Regions from separate parts of the Homo sapiens genome. Here all the other regions are reported to be linked to region 1. The links are microRNA targets in miRTarBase. Many come from high-throughput screens and were not tested one by one. Region 1 holds a microRNA gene; each other region holds the end of a gene's coding sequence.

Evidence for each region. Region 1 holds the annotated microRNA hsa-miR-376b-5p (CGUGGAUAUUCCUUCUAUGUUU, at 3,323-3,344, opposite strand). A microRNA usually pairs through its seed, bases 2 to 8, with sites in the 3' UTR of a target mRNA and lowers its output. Matches are read on the target gene's strand: a 7mer-m8 pairs with bases 2 to 8, a 7mer-A1 pairs with bases 2 to 7 and ends in A, and an 8mer does both.
Region 2: the mRNA of FCAMR is a reported target of hsa-miR-376b-5p. Seed matches in the 3' UTR shown: 7mer-m8 at 906-912.
Region 3: miRTarBase lists ZNF131 as a target of hsa-miR-376b-5p. Seed matches in the 3' UTR shown: 7mer-A1 at 3,080-3,086.
Region 4: the mRNA of CD86 is a reported target of hsa-miR-376b-5p. Seed matches in the 3' UTR shown: 7mer-A1 at 2,050-2,056.

Annotation. Positions count from the first base shown.
Region 1 is chr14:101,038,591-101,043,802 of GRCh38, reverse strand. It overlaps MIR376B (microRNA 376b), which reads right to left and starts at 3,367; the gene lies at 3,268-3,367. It overlaps MIR376C (microRNA 376c), which reads right to left and starts at 4,113; the gene lies at 4,048-4,113. It overlaps MIR376A2 (microRNA 376a-2), which reads right to left and starts at 3,734; the gene lies at 3,655-3,734. It overlaps MIR654 (microRNA 654), which reads right to left and starts at 3,584; the gene lies at 3,504-3,584. It also overlaps MIR376A1, MIR300 and MIR1185-1.
Region 2 is chr1:206,955,244-206,959,243 of GRCh38, reverse strand. It overlaps FCAMR (Fc alpha and mu receptor), which reads left to right. Exons shown (of 8, transcript NM_001170631.2): 8 at 568-1,277. The coding sequence ends at 728. Among named protein-coding and RNA genes, the nearest start is that of PIGR, 11 kb to the right of the region's middle.
Region 3 is chr5:43,174,820-43,178,819 of GRCh38, reverse strand. It overlaps ZNF131 (zinc finger protein 131), which reads right to left. Exons shown (of 7, transcript NM_001330707.2): 7 at 2,498-4,000. The coding sequence ends at 3,687. Among named protein-coding and RNA genes, the nearest start is that of NIM1K, 15 kb to the left of the region's middle.
Region 4 is chr3:122,118,378-122,123,589 of GRCh38, forward strand. CD86 (CD86 molecule) reads left to right here. Exons shown (of 7, transcript NM_175862.5): 7 at 1,061-2,759. The coding sequence ends at 1,157. Among named protein-coding and RNA genes, the nearest start is that of CASR, 63 kb to the right of the region's middle.

The sequences.
Region 1 (5,212 bases):
AGAGCGCTGAGACAATGTCTCTCCTCTGAGGCTGGTTGTCCTAGAGATGACCAGATCCAAGAATGTGTCACCTGTACCTACCTCGAAACAAACAAAAAGAGGGCCCCAGCGTCAGACTCTAGCGACAAAGGAGTCCTGAAGACCAGACACACCTGCCCAAGGCACACTCAGGTGCAATCACTGGACAATGTGCTCCGAGGACTGGCCATTGGAGTCCAGCGACAGTCCCAGAGGGCACAGGCAGGCTCAGGGAGCTCCACCAGTAACTTGCCTTAGAACAACCTGACATCCATGTGCTTCCCTCAAGGCTGACACTCTCTCAAGGATGGAGACCACCAGGGAGTGGCAGGTCAGGGGAGTAGCAGGTGAGAAGCAGCATCAGCTCTGCGCTCCACCATCCACCACCCATTCGTGTGTCCGGAGAGGTGCGAGGTTAGTGCTGGACGCAGGAAGCCCTCTGGGTATGACTTGGTATGGAGAAGAGGCAGATCCATGTGATTTATCCTTAAAAAAAGCAAACCACCATTAAACTCAGTGCACACAAAAAGGACCCTCCTCTCCCACTGCCTCCAGGGAGTCCACAGGAAGAACCAGCACAGAGAGCGAAGGCAGAACCCAAGGGCTAGGATCACAGCCAAGCTCACGTTCCCAGACAGGGAAGCCAAGCCGTACCTGAGAGGGGCTGACATCCGAGGCTTTGTCCTGGAGACAGCAGGGTCTGAGCGTCTTCCTCGACAGAGTTTGATACGCAAATAAGAGTCTCCCCCTGTATATTCGCCATTAATCAAGTGAACATACAAAGGGTATCCTCTCTTCAAGTACCAAAGAGTGGCTCAAAGAGCAGGTGAGGACTATGCCGGGTCTTCGCCGGAGTGGACATCTCCTCCTGCGAGGCCTGAGACCAAGGGGGAGGGGCCAGGTGACAAGCCTCATCTGGCTGGCCCTGGAGCTGGGGCCTGCCATACAGTTGACTTTACTTCCCAGCATCTCTTCACGACAGGATTGGTTACCAAAAGACAGGCAATCCTGTACCATTTGAAATAATGTAAATGTAAAATGGCTGAAATCCCTTTAGGGCCTGCAAAAACACCCTGGGAGAAGAACCTCTGCCTCTGCCCAAAGCCACTGCCTCCAGGAAGCCCTCCTGGTGAACACTGGCTAAGGGAGGTTAGAAGATGCAGTCACATGCATCATTAAAGAAAAAAGAGAAACAGAAATCCAACGCACTCCGTTTGCAAATCACAAAGCAGCACTATGACAAGTGTCCCTTCTCCTGAATTTGGCATTGTATTCAGAAAGCCATCTGAGCAGTTAGTTGTTACTCAGAAGTATTCATCTAGGGCAAGATTCGTCAAAGGAAAATGAGATTCTCATGGGCCAACTCTCTCTGAATAAACACATGCTAACACCAGGAATCCAAGGGTCTTTCCATTGGCAAGAATCCCTAAAGGACACCAATGGACTAAGAGAGCAGTGGGGCTTAGAGGTCCCAGCAGCAAGTCCTGTAGCCACACTGGGTGCTCTGGGGCCTCCTTCCTGTGGACTGGCCTTCCCTCAAGTGGACAGTGAGGTCCAAAAGTCACTCCAAGGATGGGCTAGGTATGGAGAGTGGGTAGACCAGATGACCCACATCTACATTAGACATTGACTTTGCTGACGGTCATTCTTTCATGTATCTGGGAGATGCACTGACCACGAGACCTCTTCTCAGAGGCTGGCATCATGCTGGGCAGACCTGCCGGAGTAGCAGCCCATGGATGCTTTGTGATAAGTAGGGCCCATCAAGGGAGGCCCTTTGTTCTTTTCTTTTTTTTTTAACCTATTGTGTTGAGACAGGGGTCTCTGTCAGCCAGGCTGAAGTGCAGTGGCACAATCTTGGCTCACTACAACCTCCCAACTCCCGGGCTCAAGTGATCCTCCAGCCTCAACCTCCTAAGTACTGGGACCACAGGCGCACACCATGACACCCAGCTAATTTTTGTATTTTTTGCAGAGATGGGGTTTCGCCAAGTTGCCCACGCTAGTTTCGAACTCCTGGGCTTAAGCCATCCACCGTCTCAGCCTCCCAAAGGGCTGGGGTTACAAGCGTGAGCCACCGTGCCCGGCCAAGGTAGGCCCTTTTTGCTAGGCAGAACAGGTGGTCTGAAGAGAAAACCCTATATCATCTCCAAAGCCAGCATCTCTTCCAGAAAGTTCTTGGAAGGAAGCATGAGATGAGGAGGGTCAGAGAACCAGGTCACAAACAGCAAGACAGAGGCACATGCCCTGTGGTCAACCATCCACACCCCAGGGCTATCCTGGCCATCTAACAGGTTGCTGGAGTCAGCCTTGTTCCCAAGAAGGCTTCCCAGGCAGGATTTGCTCCCCAGAGAGAGTCTGCCCTTGTATAATCATTGCAAGTAAAGCAAATGCGTGAAGGATTACCTCTCTTCAAGTAGCAAATGATGGCAGTGACAGGAAGGCCATTTCCTCTGTGACTAAGTTGCCACCAGCTCCAGGAGCAAGCCTTAGAGACACAGATGGGATCTGCATGGTGAGAGCAGCACACCGAGGTGTGAAGTGCAGGCCCGTGGGTGAATCACACATCTATTCCTTCCATAGCCCCTGAAGCAGTGCCCCTTCCTGAAATTGACAGCCCACTCAGGTATTCTCTAAGGTACAACTAGTCACAGTAAAAGAGGTTCATTCCAGAAAATGCATTGCAATCATGGTAAACATACAGAGAACAAACTTCATTCAAGGTCAATGAGGCAATACTGAGAACACAGCCTTGTAACAACACATTATGTGTGCACCAAGGGCAGTGAGCAAACAGCAGAGAAGCTGACGGCGTATTTCATACAAAGTACAATTCTGTGTCTGTCCGTCCTGTACCCAGGAGGGGTACAGATAACATCTCCTCTTCCATGGCGACTTCACGTCCTCCGAGGTTTTCAAAGCAGCATTTGATACTGAAAACGTGGATTTTCCTCTATGATTAATCATAAATAATGTACTCATAGAAGGAGAATCTACCTTTTAAATACCAAAGAAGGATTCCATCCAGGAAAGCGTGCACCTGTGCTTGAGTCATCAGAAAAGAAAGTCACATGAGGCAGACGAGCTTCCAGGGAAGAACTGGCACCACGAGACCCACAATTTAATCTTCACCAAGTTGGCGTCTCGAGATGGTTCTCGGGCATACCCCGTTCATTCAGATACGACGTGCGGCCTACCATCTTTGCACCTACTCAGGCCCTACGGTCTCTTCCAGAAACATTTCCAAAGCAGCATTTGATACTGAAAACATGGATTTTCCTCTATGATTAACCAGGAATCACGTAAACATAGAAGGAATATCCACGTTTTAAATACCAAAGAAGGACTGGGCTCTGGAAAGGACAAATCTGAACACAGTTCATGGAAAATGGAAGCAAGACAGTAAAGCAACCGTTTTCAGTCCCGTAGCATAGCTGTGACAACACACCACAGCCTGTGCACCAAGCTGGCTCCTCAGCGAAAGGGGGCTTCTAAAGGTGATGGTCAGCAGACATATGGCACGAACTCAGCACATGTTCTGCGGCCCACCATCTTTCCACTTACCCTGGAGGGCTCAGCCCCACCTCACGTCCCTGATGGTGGCTTCAGTCCAGCCATGATCCCAAGGCAGCATTTGATACTGAAAACGTGGATTTTCCTCTATGATTAACCATCAAACACGTAACCATAGAAGGAAAATCTACCTTTTAAATACCAAAGAAGGTTTCATCCCGGAAAGCACGAACCTAAGTACAATCCATCAAACACAAAAGTAACATAGCACAGAGGAGAGCATTCGGCCTCATGGAGAAAATGACGACGGAGCCCAGCCGCTTGGCCGAGCGGGCAGCTTGCGAGAGGGGTCTCCTCAAGGCGGGTGGGTGGTCCGCAGACATATGGCACGAATTCAGCACATGTTCTGAGGTCCACCGACTTTCCACTTACCCTGGAGTGGGGGGGGGGACTTTATTGTCTCTTCCCTGATGGTGGTTTCAGTCCAGGAATGTTTCCAAGCAGCATTTGATACTGAAAACGTGGAATTTCCTCTATGTTTAACCATAAATAACATAAACATAGAAGGAATATCCACCTTTTAAATACCAAAGAAGGATTGAGTCCTGGAAAGCATGAACCTAAGCACAATCTATCAAAATTAAAGACAGCACAGGATAGGTGCAGTCGGCAGGGGCCTCCCGGGCTAGCGGCAGTGACATGGGCCCTGCGGAGGACGCATGTCCCAGGACAGACCTTGCTAACAAGAGCTTAGGTTCTGGGATTCACCTTCCATCACTCTCCGCATGGGGGAGGGAGCTAACCTTCCTCTCAGAAATGTTCAGAAATGTTTTAAAAGCAGCCTTAGATACTGAAAATGCGGATTTTCCTCTATGATTCACCATAAATCCTGTAAGCATAGAAGGAACATCCACCTTTTAGATGGGAAAAGTGGGAACAGCCCTGGAGAGCACAAACGCAAACATGATTCATGAAAGACAGAAGGTAACAGAAGCAGGTGAGCACTTTGCGAGTCCCACGTGGGAAGCGCAGGGCCCACCCCTGGCCTCTTCACATCCAGAGATGGAACTCCTATGCAGGCAAACGTAAGTTTGGGGTCTGCCCTGCTGTCACTCGTCTGGGTGGGGGTAACCCTAATGTCTCTTCCCTAATGGAGGCTTCATGGTCAAGAGCGTTTCCAAAGTAGCATTTAATTCTGAAAAAAAAAAAAAAAAAAAGTGAATGTACATCAAAAATTTGCCACAAGTAAAGCAGGCAAAGTAGGGATTCTATGCTTTGAATTCGAAAAATATCAAAAACAAAAAGAAAATAAGCCTGTCAGGTTCCTAAAGTCACATCGCCTCCATGAAGCCCTCCCAAGGCACCTAATGACCAATGTCATGTAACTGTGGGCTGGAGCATCCTTCACATACCTTGGAGGGAGAAGGACACCCAAGAATCTTCCAGAGACTGAAGCTTGTGTCCAGAAAGTTTCAATCGGCAGGACTGGTCATGTTGGTGTGACAGACTGAGGAATAGGCAAACAGGTCAAAAACAATGTCTCTTTAAATACAACTGAGAGAGGTAGCAAAACATGATGCTCACCAGCCCCTACCACCACCACCCTCCACCACCACCACCACCACCACCACCAACACCACCAACACCACCACCACCAACACCACCACCACCACCACCACCA
Region 2 (4,000 bases), not on the chromosome of region 1:
CCAAATTGCTGGGATTATAGGCGTGAGCCACTCTGCCCAAACTGCCTTGGTTTTTAATCAATAAAATTAGAAATTATCTCTGTACTTACGTGTCAATGGCATCCCAGAGCACAAGGAGAAGCTCCTGGAAGATTACAAAGGCTGTGATGCCTATGTTAACCATAAGCCTCATAAGCAACCCTCACAGCAGAGAGCAGGAGTGCAGGGCCCAGACCTGGGATCAAACCTCGCATTTTCCCCCTTTGGCAAAGCCCAGCTAAAATTCTCTGAGAGCAACATGCCCAGGTTTAAGTACTCTTAAAGTGAGGGCTCTGTGATATGTACACCTAGTGAAGAAAGGGTGAGATTTTCTGGCAGCAAGTGGAGGAGGCTAAGGTTCTCAGACCCAGGCCCCGAAGTCCAAGCCCTATCATGGGCTAGGCTGGCTTAGCCTAGCCAACTAGGGCTCCATTGCTTCTGTGTCAGAAAGTTCTTGAAAACTTGCAGTGGTTGGGAGTGGTTCTTAGGAAATCAAAGTCAGTGCTGTCCTTACCCAGAACCCTCACAGTCTGCTCTGTGTCTCTGCAGCTCAGGAGGCAGAAAGGGTCACCTTAATTCAGATGACACATTTTCTGGAAGTGAACCCCCAAGCAGACCAGCTGCCCCATGTGGAAAGAAAGATGCTCCAGGATGACTCTCTTCCTGCTGGGGCCAGCCTGACTGCCCCAGAGAGAAATCCAGGACCCTGAGGGACAGAGAGATGAACTGCTCAGTTACCATGGGAGAAGGACCAAGATCAAAGGCCTTCAGGACCCCAGCCTCTTTCCATCATCCTTCCTCCACCTGTGGGAAGAGAAGCTGATGCAGCCGGTGCTCCACCCATGGAAGAAAGGCTGGCTGTCCTTGGGCCCAAGAAAGTCAAGCATTATCCACGTCCAAAGGTGACAAGATGACTCAAAGGAGACTTCAAGAACAGTGTATGAAACACTGGAAGAGGTCACCTAGGAAAAGCATGAAATTTCCATTCCTGAATGTTTGAAAATAGAAGAGGCTTCCAATCAGTGTGGAAAGTGACAAATCCCCTATCAACACTCCCAGCCCTTGCTGGGGGCTCCTTTTCTGACTACTGTTAGCACTCAGCCTCCCATTCACATGTATTATATTTAAGTGTACCAGCCTTGCCTTCTCAAGTAGATTCTAAGCTCCTTTAAGGCAGTAATTGCATTTTATCTGTCTCATGATGCCCCCAGAGAACTTCCAACTCAGTAGGACCCCAATAAATACCTGTGTCTGATTGACTTGGGGGCTCAGTGGCCTCTAGGCACCCTTCCTCTGCAAGAACTCTGGGTCCCCCTGGGCTTCTGCCCCTCCTTTTGGGAGTCCCCTAGATGACCCCACAGGCAGCTGGTTTCTCCGCTGAGATCAAAAGGGCAAACACCCATTCCTCACATCATCCCGCCCCATTTGGACCCAGGCTTATTGTGCCGTAGACCTTTTGACCCGGCCAAGATTTTCTGGGATTTTCCTACATTCATGGAGGAGCAGGGTATTTTCAGTAGATTCTTGCTTTCTTCATAAAGGCCCTCTTGTTCAGCTGCTTATAAATCCTCGATATGGAGGACTGTTGGTGAAGCTGGAAAATGGTTTTTGGGGGTGAGGTGGGAGACAAAAGAGAGGAATTTTATGTGGATTCTGCCCTGTAACTACATCACCTCATGCTTGTCAGGGAACTTTCGCTCCACCCTAGGCCCCACTGCCTTTCCAGGAATCACATCCACTATTTTCTTTTGCCAGATCCGCTGGCAAACTGTCTGGGCTCCATTGTTGGATGGAACAGCCTGAGCGGTGGAGGCAGAAAGGAAAAATAGGCACCAATATCGAGTTGAGAATTGCCAGGTAGACATTTCCAGAAGGCTTAGTCCTGCCTTCTAAGCTGTCAGCAGCACAGAAATCCTTCAGTAATACCCCCTTATATCTGGTTCTGAACACAGACACTGTACAAAGAAAATCAAGGAGATGCCGGTTTTATGGCTTATAAGAGAAACCTGTTGTTTTGGATAAGTAGGAAAATTGCACACATCTAACCACATGGAATCGCAGAATTTCAGAGCTAACAGATCTTTAGAGATTAGTCTAATATCCTCATTCTAGAAGAGAGGGACTTGAGGCCCAACAGGGTTAAGGGTACAGGTGGGGGGCGCTTGTTTAAAGTCACCCAGTTAACCCAGTTAGTTATAGCACTGTGAGGACTAGCAAAGAGAACTCGTGACCTTGGTTCAGGGCCTTTTTCACTTCACCATTGCTGAGCATTGTACCAAAGCAAAACTCACTGTCAAAAATCAAGGATACCACAGTCGTCCCTCGAGACTATTTTCCTGTTCGCTTTCTCAATGACCTGCCCCAAATAATCCTGTAACGGAGATAGGACAGACATCATGGATCCTATTCAACCAATGAGGGAGCAGGCTCTGCAAGGTGTGTACTTCAGCAAAGGCCACTCGGAGCAGCCCACCTCCACAGCTATGTTCTGGATCGCCGTGCCCCTTGCTTGGATTTATGATCTAGGTATCTGGTCAGGTCCTTTCCTGTGTAAAGCTCTAAAGGCTCACTTCTTTCTCTCTCTCTCTCTTAGGCTTGTGCATGGAAGGTTTCATGATCATTCCCAGGAATTGGTTCTCATTTGTGGCAGGGATGGGCCCAGCACCCAGACTGTTTCTAATGCTAGATTCTCAGGATGTGAAAAGGTGTTCTGAGGAAAAGGAGGTTTGGTAGATTAATGAAGTTTTGGAAATGCTGGGAAACCACAAACATTCTTCTATGCAGGATCTTTTGGAGCCTTTGCTATATGGAGGTGTATTGTGAAACACCCTGGGTTTTCACACCTCGGGATGGGGACATAATGTGTGTTTCCCAGATGTGTTGGATTATTGTGTTTGATTGAAGCAGTCCCAAGGGGCTGGAGTTCCTCACATCACTGTTTGGGGAAGCCTGATGCACTAAACCCGGGGTTGGCCAACTCTTCAGTAAAGGGCCACATGGTAAACATTTTAGGCTTTGCAGGCCATACAGTCTCTATGGCAACTACTCAGTTCTGCCGTTGCAGCACAAAAGCAGCCAGGCAATCGAGAAACAAATGACCGCAGCTGTGTTCCAACAAAACTTTATTTCCCAAAACAGGAGGGAGGCTGGATTTGGCCCTTGAGCCAGAATCTGCCAGTCCCTGGACTAAGCCATGAAATTGTACAGGACTCTTTTGTTCCCACTCGGATCTGGAGATCAGATCCTATTCTTCCTCAAGGGCTTCCCTGACCACCTTTCTCCAGGACCTCTCCTTCCTCCAAACGGCTCTAATACTTTCATTGTGGAATTCAGCAGCTAGAATGTTCTGTCTGACTACCCCATCTTGGGGGAAGAAGGGGAGGGAGGAGACAACCAGCCCAGCAAGAGTGTTGGCCACGTGGCTAGAGCCAGGAGCGTTTCTAGCAGGGAGGCCGTTATAGGGAAAGTTAAGCTCCACCAGAGGTGGAGCTGGTAAGAGTTCAAAAGGCCAGGGCAGGGCCAGATTAGAGTCCCAGGGCCAAGAGTTTGGAGGGGGCAGAGATAAGATCTGAGTAAGAACTTTCAGGGAGAGAAGCGGGGAAGCCCCAAGTGTTCACAGCTCTCCTTTATGGGCTAACTGATCCATGGAGTAGTCAGGAGGGTTGATTTAAAGGGCCAGAGGCCAAACTGGCAGAGGAGGCCACCTCCACCACTTGGTATTGTCAGTGCTGTTGTTTTTCATCTTATACCTCCGGCTAGCATGATGCCTATACCACTGAGATGAGGGGCAGGCAAACATCTATCCCTAGGCCAGAATCAGGGAAGCCTCCCTGGGGATTTCTAACTTAGGATTAGAATCTAATCGAGGATGCAGGGAGACCATTGATTTTCACAAGATCAAGCAGATTCTCAGGTTCGGGTGCATTTCTGCAGTTCACTTTACACTGTTACTTACTAACGCTGCTACTGCTTGTTAACGTGT
Region 3 (4,000 bases), not on the chromosome of region 1:
CCTGGTTCATCTTGTATTTTTAGTAGAGATGGGGGTTTCACCATGTTGGCCCAGGCTGGTCTCGAACTCCTGAACTGGTGATCTGTCCACCTTGGCCTCCCAAAGTGTTGGGATTACAGGCGTGAGCCACCGTGTCCAGCCAGGTAGCCTTTTTAAACTGGTAAGACTACAAGAGCCTTCTGATTTTGTACATATCCAAAAGATGTCTAGCTTTTAAATGTATTGCTAATGTATTCAGTTTAGTTTTTCTTTCAATCTCAAATGATAGGTGTGGTGTAATTAAAAAAAAAAAAAAAATAGGCCAAGCACGGTGGCTCATACCTGTAATCCCAGCACTTTGGGAGGCTGAGGTGGGTGGATCACCTGAAGTCGAGAGATCGAGACCAGCCTGACCAACATGGTGAAAACCCGTCTCTACTGAAAAAAAAAAAATTAGCCGGGCATGGTGGCGCATGCCTGTAATCCCAGCTACTCGAGAGGCTGAGGTATGAGAATCGCCTTAACCTGGGAGGTGGAGGTTGCAGTGAGCAGAGATCGTGCCATTGCACTCCAGCCTGGGCAACAAGAGTGAAACTGTCTAAAAACAAAACAAATAAAATGGATTTGGGTTTTTCTCCCTGGTTCCTTGCACACAGCTCCAAAAATCCTTGTAATTTCCAGAATGTCTTTTGTTATTCATTACAAGCCCCTTTTGATCTTACCAGTTTATGCTAATGAGATGACTACTGGCAGAGGGCCCCTAGATAGCTTCAAGATGGGCACGGGTCACTAGAGGAACCAGTTGTATTAAAGGGCTACAACTATTACCCCCACCCGAGACCTCCAGGGAGAAGAGGGGCTGGAGATTGAGCCCGGAGGCCAATAATTTAATGAGTCTAGGTTATAAAATGTCAGTAAGGGAGCTTCTGAGTTGAACACATCAACATGCTGGGAAAGTGGCATGCCAAGTGAGGGCAGAGAAACCTCTACTATTCTCCTCCACAACCCCCTCCATCCACCTTACTCTATGCATCTCTTCCATTTGGCTGTTCCTGAATTGTATACTTACTGTAGTCGTTAAGTATAGTGCTTTCCTGAGTTGTTTCAATGCATTATTGAACTTGGGGGGATGGGAAGGCCATAAGAACCCTAAATTTACGGTTGGCTGGGCAGAAGCGCGGGTAGCCTGTTGATCGCATTTGTGGCTGGTGTCTGAAGTGGGGGCAATTTTGTGGTACTGAGCACTTAACTTGCTCTAAATCTGGGTGGTGTCAGATTCAATTGTTGGACACCCAATTGATGTCTGAGAATTGCTGTTGAAACGGAGTAGAGATAGAAAAGCCTCTCATCGTTCTCAGTGCACTTGGGACTTATTTCTATGTGATCATCATTGCACACTCTACTGTCCAACTTGGTACCTCATACTGTAGACTTATCTTAAAACTCCAGTACAAATACAGTAGAACACTGGAGGACTAAATATCCAGTTTGCTTCAGTACTTGAAGCAAATATACATCAGTTGTTAACAGCTGTTTTATGTTCTACATAAAGTGCTTTCCAACTACAAAATGTTATTCAACATACAGTTTATCACCAGTAGATAGTTTTCCTCTACTTTTGCAATCAAATTTACTGGCATTCTGGGTACACTGATAGCTTCTATACCTTTTGGGAAAAGAAAAATGAACTATATCTGCATCTCAAATCTACCTCGAAAGGTCTTGACAAATGTGAAAACTCAAATAATTTTAACACTTTGATGTACCTTTGCCCTTGATCTTTACCTTGTGGTCAGAACTCTTGTTTTAAAATCCTTGTTTCATACCTTAGCTTAAGGGCATAGTATGCGCTATTTTCAGCATTCAAAATTCACCAGATACTAACTAGTAATTTACATATTTGAGACCACTATCTGTTAGGGTTTTTTTTCTTAAACAACTCAGGAACATTGGCATCCTAAGGCAAACTGAAAATTCACTGGGATATAATTTAATTATATTATTGGTATTTTCCAATTTCAAATAAAAACTATACTGTTAAATAAGCTTTGCAGTAGATACCCAACTACCAAACAGTACACACTTGGAAGTGTTCATACCCTTATTTTGATCTTAAAAACGTGGCCCCCTTAATACAATGGTTGGCTCTATCTCCAGATTTATATCTAAATCTGACTTCTCCAATGCTGGGAAGCCACTCTCTTCAGCGTATTTTTGTAAATGTGATACCATTTAACGTCACGATTACCAAAGGGGGCTAATCGCATTGGTCTTTTACATTTGACACAGTTAAGTGGAGAATTCCTGCTATTGTGCCTACCATGTAAGAACTATTAGCATAAAGAATATGAACTACTTCCATGCTTTTGAGCTGATTTTGGGGGGTTGGAGGTGTGATGGAAAATTTATCACAATTCATGCATCAGTCATGTTAACACGGGTAAAGACACATGAGGAACTATCTCTGCCCAGATATAAACTTTCACGCTGGTAATTTTTTAAAAAAGAGTCATGAACACATAATTTTAAAGTTTACTTAAAAAATGTAAAGAACTCCCAATATTTAACAGGTAAAAAAAATAGCATATTGGTCTATGGGTTTGTTATATTTTATTTTCCAAGTAATACTGATTAAAAATATTTACACACCTACTTTTAAGTCCACAGTTTAGCACTCTTATTTGTATGGCTTTAAAAGTTATAGCACAAGATCTTTACATTAAGAATTGGGGGAAAAGATTCCATTCAAAACAAAGCCTGATAATTATATACATGTCTTTCTCTGTACTTTATTTTAAATACATTAATTTTTAAATGCTGCTCATCTTTTTCTCATCTGGTGGTAAAATACTAGTGCAACTTTTCATCAAAATAAAGTTTACCACAGATGTAAATAAATTTTCCCAATTGAAAATGGCCCTTCAGTGGCCATTAAATAAAATTTCTCAACCTAACTTAAGTGAAAAAGAACTGGTGGTTGTCATTATAACCAAAAATATAAAGTATTATAGCATCATCTACATTGCTCCTTACAACACAAACTTTGAAAGAACCAGAGATGCTTTATAGAAGTTCAGTTGGTTTTGAGAAGGCACATGGGTGTGGATTTTTTTTTTTTTTTAACATTCTAGAAATTTTGCCACCACCACTCTTTCTGTTGCAAAGATGGCATCTGTGACTACTGGGGTAGACAAGAACGTTTGTTCAAACTAAAGAAAGCCAGAAGCCAAAATTTAACTGCACAGTAACAATGCACTTTTCATCATGCAGCCTTGTGTTTCCTATATTATTCAATTTTCTAACATGCATTAGAATACATAAACTTGTATTCTAATGATTTAAGTTTGATTTTACAATATGGAAAAAATTTGAGGAAGAACATGACCTGGGAAAGAGAAAAGGAAGAACTTTTACCACAATGAAAATAGATACATTCGTACCCAACTATATAATAAGAATATAATCCATTTAAGTTTCCAGAAATATACTTCTCAAAACTCCCCTTCAGTTATGGAAAAGATCCCTCCTCTGTGGCAATAAGTAGGGGGAGGGGAATCAATGTGTTTCAACGGACAACAGTTCAGCACAACAGGAAACAGCTTAACTTTGGTCCACTTGTCTGTTAGGCTTAATTAAGGACAGTCAAACTGCCCATAATCAGTTCAAAAACCCAACAAGTAAATTTAAAAATATATTCATGTGTAATTTCATTCTAAAACTGGCAGAGCTGTTCTGTCCTCATTCTCTGCCTTTTCTGCTTCAGAATCCACTGTTGGCTTGGTCTCTAAATCCTCAGCATCTTCGTGATCTTCCCTGGCAGCCTCAGCAGCATCTGCTTGGCTAGACTCTCTCTCCTCTTGGTTCATGATTTCTGGGGTCACGTGGTCCAAATCTGCTTCTAGAAGTTCAGTTTGTACTTCCACTGGCATTTGATTGACCCGTTCAACATGCAGCTCCTCTACATGTACTTCAGTACCTTCTTCAGTCTGAATTCGGCCCACTTCTAGATAACTCACTTGGA
Region 4 (5,212 bases), not on the chromosome of region 1:
GCCACAGTAACCCCAGTACCTGGCACAGTGCCTAGATTAGTGGGCATCCTACATGTGTGGAATGAATAAATGAAGAAGTGGGGAATGATAACATGTTTGCTTCAGCCTGAGCATCTTAGTATTTGCTATGGCCCTGTTTAGATGTTCTTCTGCCACTTCTTTACCTCATTCTTCAGATCTTGCCTCAAGCAGCACTTTCTTAAAAACCCTTTCCCAAACTAGAAAATGTCAACTTGTTACAGTGTCATGTGGATCCCTTGGCTTTTTCTTAATAACACCAGATTATGCTTACATATTTGTGTAATTATCTTATTAAACTCTATAAACTAGACTTAACTAAATCCTATGAAGAGCAGAGACCATACCAGTTAAGCTCATCATTGTGCTGCTAGCACTTAGCATGGTGCCTGGCATATAGCAGGTTCTCAATAAATGTTGAAAGAATGATTGATGCATGATGAATACATAAAAGTTCGTGGTGATCAGTCCTTTCACAACGTGAAGCTATCAGATAGTCTGTACCTCTATCCCTCCTGAGAAATTAAGCTCTCAGGAATATCAAGGCTCTGACTGCATACCCATAGGATCAAAGCAACCCTCAGTCACAAGCCTGGTTTCAGAGATAGGGTCATAACCCCCAGGGTGCAGAGACAACCGAGAGTACCCAGCACTAATCCAGATATACCAGCCACTGTGATTCTAGCAACAAAACTAATAATTCCGGGCACCCTTGGACAATGAGAAAGGGTGCTGAAATCCTGCCTACCCTGTCACACTCAGTTTCAGAAATGGTCTGGAAGAGCCTGCAGAGGGCAGGCAGCAGAGAACCGGCAGAGGGCATGGGAAGGGCCAGGCAGAAATAAAGGGTAGCTCTTGAAGCATAGATGACAGTGTAGACCGTGGTTCTTTTCTCTTGCTTTCTCCACCTTTCTCTTCAATAGTTTGTTTCTCCTCATTGCTGTTCCAATGGCAACCTCTATTCTGCCCTATCATTGAAATCTAGAAAAAGAAAGTAGCTCAAATGTGAAATATCACCTAATCTTTTCTTCTATTTCTCCAGAGAAAAAATCCATATACCTGAAAGATCTGATGAAGCCCAGCGTGTTTTTAAAAGTTCGAAGACATCTTCATGCGACAAAAGTGATACATGTTTTTAATTAAAGAGTAAAGCCCATACAAGTATTCATTTTTTCTACCCTTTCCTTTGTAAGTTCCTGGGCAACCTTTTTGATTTCTTCCAGAAGGCAAAAAGACATTACCATGAGTAATAAGGGGGCTCCAGGACTCCCTCTAAGTGGAATAGCCTCCCTGTAACTCCAGCTCTGCTCCGTATGCCAAGAGGAGACTTTAATTCTCTTACTGCTTCTTTTCACTTCAGAGCACACTTATGGGCCAAGCCCAGCTTAATGGCTCATGACCTGGAAATAAAATTTAGGACCAATACCTCCTCCAGATCAGATTCTTCTCTTAATTTCATAGATTGTGTTTTTTTTTTAAATAGACCTCTCAATTTCTGGAAAACTGCCTTTTATCTGCCCAGAATTCTAAGCTGGTGCCCCACTGAATTTTGTGTGTACCTGTGACTAAACAACTACCTCCTCAGTCTGGGTGGGACTTATGTATTTATGACCTTATAGTGTTAATATCTTGAAACATAGAGATCTATGTACTGTAATAGTGTGATTACTATGCTCTAGAGAAAAGTCTACCCCTGCTAAGGAGTTCTCATCCCTCTGTCAGGGTCAGTAAGGAAAACGGTGGCCTAGGGTACAGGCAACAATGAGCAGACCAACCTAAATTTGGGGAAATTAGGAGAGGCAGAGATAGAACCTGGAGCCACTTCTATCTGGGCTGTTGCTAATATTGAGGAGGCTTGCCCCACCCAACAAGCCATAGTGGAGAGAACTGAATAAACAGGAAAATGCCAGAGCTTGTGAACCCTGTTTCTCTTGAAGAACTGACTAGTGAGATGGCCTGGGGAAGCTGTGAAAGAACCAAAAGAGATCACAATACTCAAAAGAGAGAGAGAGAGAAAAAAGAGAGATCTTGATCCACAGAAATACATGAAATGTCTGGTCTGTCCACCCCATCAACAAGTCTTGAAACAAGCAACAGATGGATAGTCTGTCCAAATGGACATAAGACAGACAGCAGTTTCCCTGGTGGTCAGGGAGGGGTTTTGGTGATACCCAAGTTATTGGGATGTCATCTTCCTGGAAGCAGAGCTGGGGAGGGAGAGCCATCACCTTGATAATGGGATGAATGGAAGGAGGCTTAGGACTTTCCACTCCTGGCTGAGAGAGGAAGAGCTGCAACGGAATTAGGAAGACCAAGACACAGATCACCCGGGGCTTACTTAGCCTACAGATGTCCTACGGGAACGTGGGCTGGCCCAGCATAGGGCTAGCAAATTTGAGTTGGATGATTGTTTTTGCTCAAGGCAACCAGAGGAAACTTGCATACAGAGACAGATATACTGGGAGAAATGACTTTGAAAACCTGGCTCTAAGGTGGGATCACTAAGGGATGGGGCAGTCTCTGCCCAAACATAAAGAGAACTCTGGGGAGCCTGAGCCACAAAAATGTTCCTTTATTTTATGTAAACCCTCAAGGGTTATAGACTGCCATGCTAGACAAGCTTGTCCATGTAATATTCCCATGTTTTTACCCTGCCCCTGCCTTGATTAGACTCCTAGCACCTGGCTAGTTTCTAACATGTTTTGTGCAGCACAGTTTTTAATAAATGCTTGTTACATTCATTTAAAAGTCTACATTTTCTGCTTTGGCTTCAAGAGTACTACTCAACCCTTGTGGTCTGATGTTCCCTGCTCTGTCCTCTGAATGTACTTCCTTTCTCTTTACATCTCTATGGCTAGAAGCCTCTCACGCATCCTGTATCTTCTCCTCCTCCCTTTTCCCTACCATTATTTGAGAAAGGAGGCTTGTATACTTCTATATGTTTATCTCAGTAATAAGTCATAAAAAATCAAGTAAGAATGGTTGTTTTTGAGGACAACTAAGAAATCTGGAATAAGGAAGGGAAGCTTACTTTTGAGTTTGTAACCTGTAGTGTGTAATTTTTTAATTATGTACTTACATGTACATTAAACAAAAGCTTAATGTAAAAATATTCCTTGAAAACACCATGATTATAAAATAAATGCATATATACACATACAGCATGTGAGAGGAGCCAGGAAAACTCTGGAAAAAAGAAAATTACCTAGACTCTGTGAGGGCAGGAATGTGTTTAATTTCTCTCCAATGGATCCTCAGACAACTAAGATAGTTGTCTATTCTATTGTCCATCTTTTTGTCTTTTGTTGTATTTCTTAAAGATTCCCTCAACTTTATCTTCTAACTTCTGTTGTATTTTTATTTCTGCTATCATGTATTCTTTTCAGAATTCTTTTTTGTTCTCTCAAAACATATCTGTTTAAAGATTGAATGAAATATTAACATGCCCTTTGGTGAGAACATCCCTCCTTTGTATATTAAATTCTCTGAACTGCTGTATTCTAAGACTAGGGGAAAGAAAAAGAAGGTTGAAAGAGGTCATTAGGCAGAATAGTACTAGCTAACATTATTTCACATTTACCATATACCCGTCACTCATCTAAACCTTTAAACTCATTATCCTATTTAATCCTCACAATGACCCTGTGACGTAGGTAATGGAATATTATGCCCATTATGCTGATGAGAAAATATAAACACAGAGATAAGTCAGAGTAATTTACCCAACATTGTTAACTTTGTAAGTGGCAGAGCTTTGTAACAGGCAGAGGTTGGAACAGTTTGGAGGGCTCAGAAGAAGACAGGAAGATGTAGGAAAGTTTGGAACTTCCCAGAGCCTTGTTGAATGGCTTTGACCAAAATGCTGATAGTAATATGGACAATGAAATACAGGCTGAGGTGGTCTCAGATAGAGAAGAGGAACTTGTTGGGAACTGGAATAAAGGTGACTCTTGCTATGTTTTAGCAAAGACACTGGTGGCATTTTGCCCCTGCCCTAGAGATTTGTGGGACTTTGAACTTGAGAGAGATGATTTAGGGTATCTGGTGGAAGAAATTTCTAAGCAGCAAAGCATTCAAGATGTAACTTTCGTGCTGTTAAAAGCATTCAGTTTTATGTATTCCCAAAAATATGGTTTGGAATTGGAACTTATGTTTAAAAGTTTGGAAAATTTGCAGCCTGACAATGTGATAGAAAAGAAAACCCATTTTCTGAGGAGAAATTCAAGCCAGCTGCAGAAATTTGCATAAGTAACAAGGAGCCAAATGTTAATTGCCAAGATAATGGGAAAATGTCTCCAGGCCATGTCAGAACTCTTTACAGCAGCCCTTCTCATCACAGGCCAAGAGGCCTAGGAGGGAAAAACGGTTTCCTGGCCAGGCCCGAGGCCTTGCTGCTTTGTGCAGTTTTGGGACTTGGTGCCCTGCATCCCAGCCATGGCTAAAAGAGGCCAAGATACAGTTCAGGTCATGGCTTCAGAGGGTGCAAGCCCCAAGGCTTGGCAGCTTCAGCACAGTGAACCTGCAGGTGCACACAAGTCAAGAATTGAGGTTTGGGAACATCCCCGTAGATTTCAGAGGATGTATGGGAACACCTGGATGTCCAGGCAGAAGTTTGCTGCAGGGGTAGAGCTCTCATGGAGAACCTCTGCAAGGGCAGTGCAGCAGGGAAATGTGGGGTTGGAGCCCCCACACAGAGTCCCCACTGGGGCACTGCCTAGTGGAGCTATGAGAAGAGGGCCACCATCATCCAGACCCCAGAATTGTAGGTCCACCAACCATGCGCCTGGAAAAGTCACCGACACTCAATGCCAACCCATGAAGGAAGTCAGGAGGGGGCTGTACCCTGCAAAGCCAAAGAGGCCAAGCTGCCCAAGGCCATGGGAGCCCACCTCTTGCATCAGCATGACCTGGATGTGAGAGATGGAGACAAAAGAGAGATCATTTTGGAGCTTTAAGATTTCACTGCCCCACTGGATTTTGGACTTGCATGGGGCCTGTAGCCCCTTTGTTTTGGCAAATTTCTCCCATTTGGAATGGGTATATTTACCCAATGCCTGTACCCCCATTGTATCTAGGAAGTTACTAACTTTCTTTTGATTTTACAGGCTCATAGGCGGAAGGTGCTTGCCTTGTCTCAGATGAGACTTTGGACTTGGGACTTTTGGGTTAATGCTGGAATGAGTTAAGACTTTGG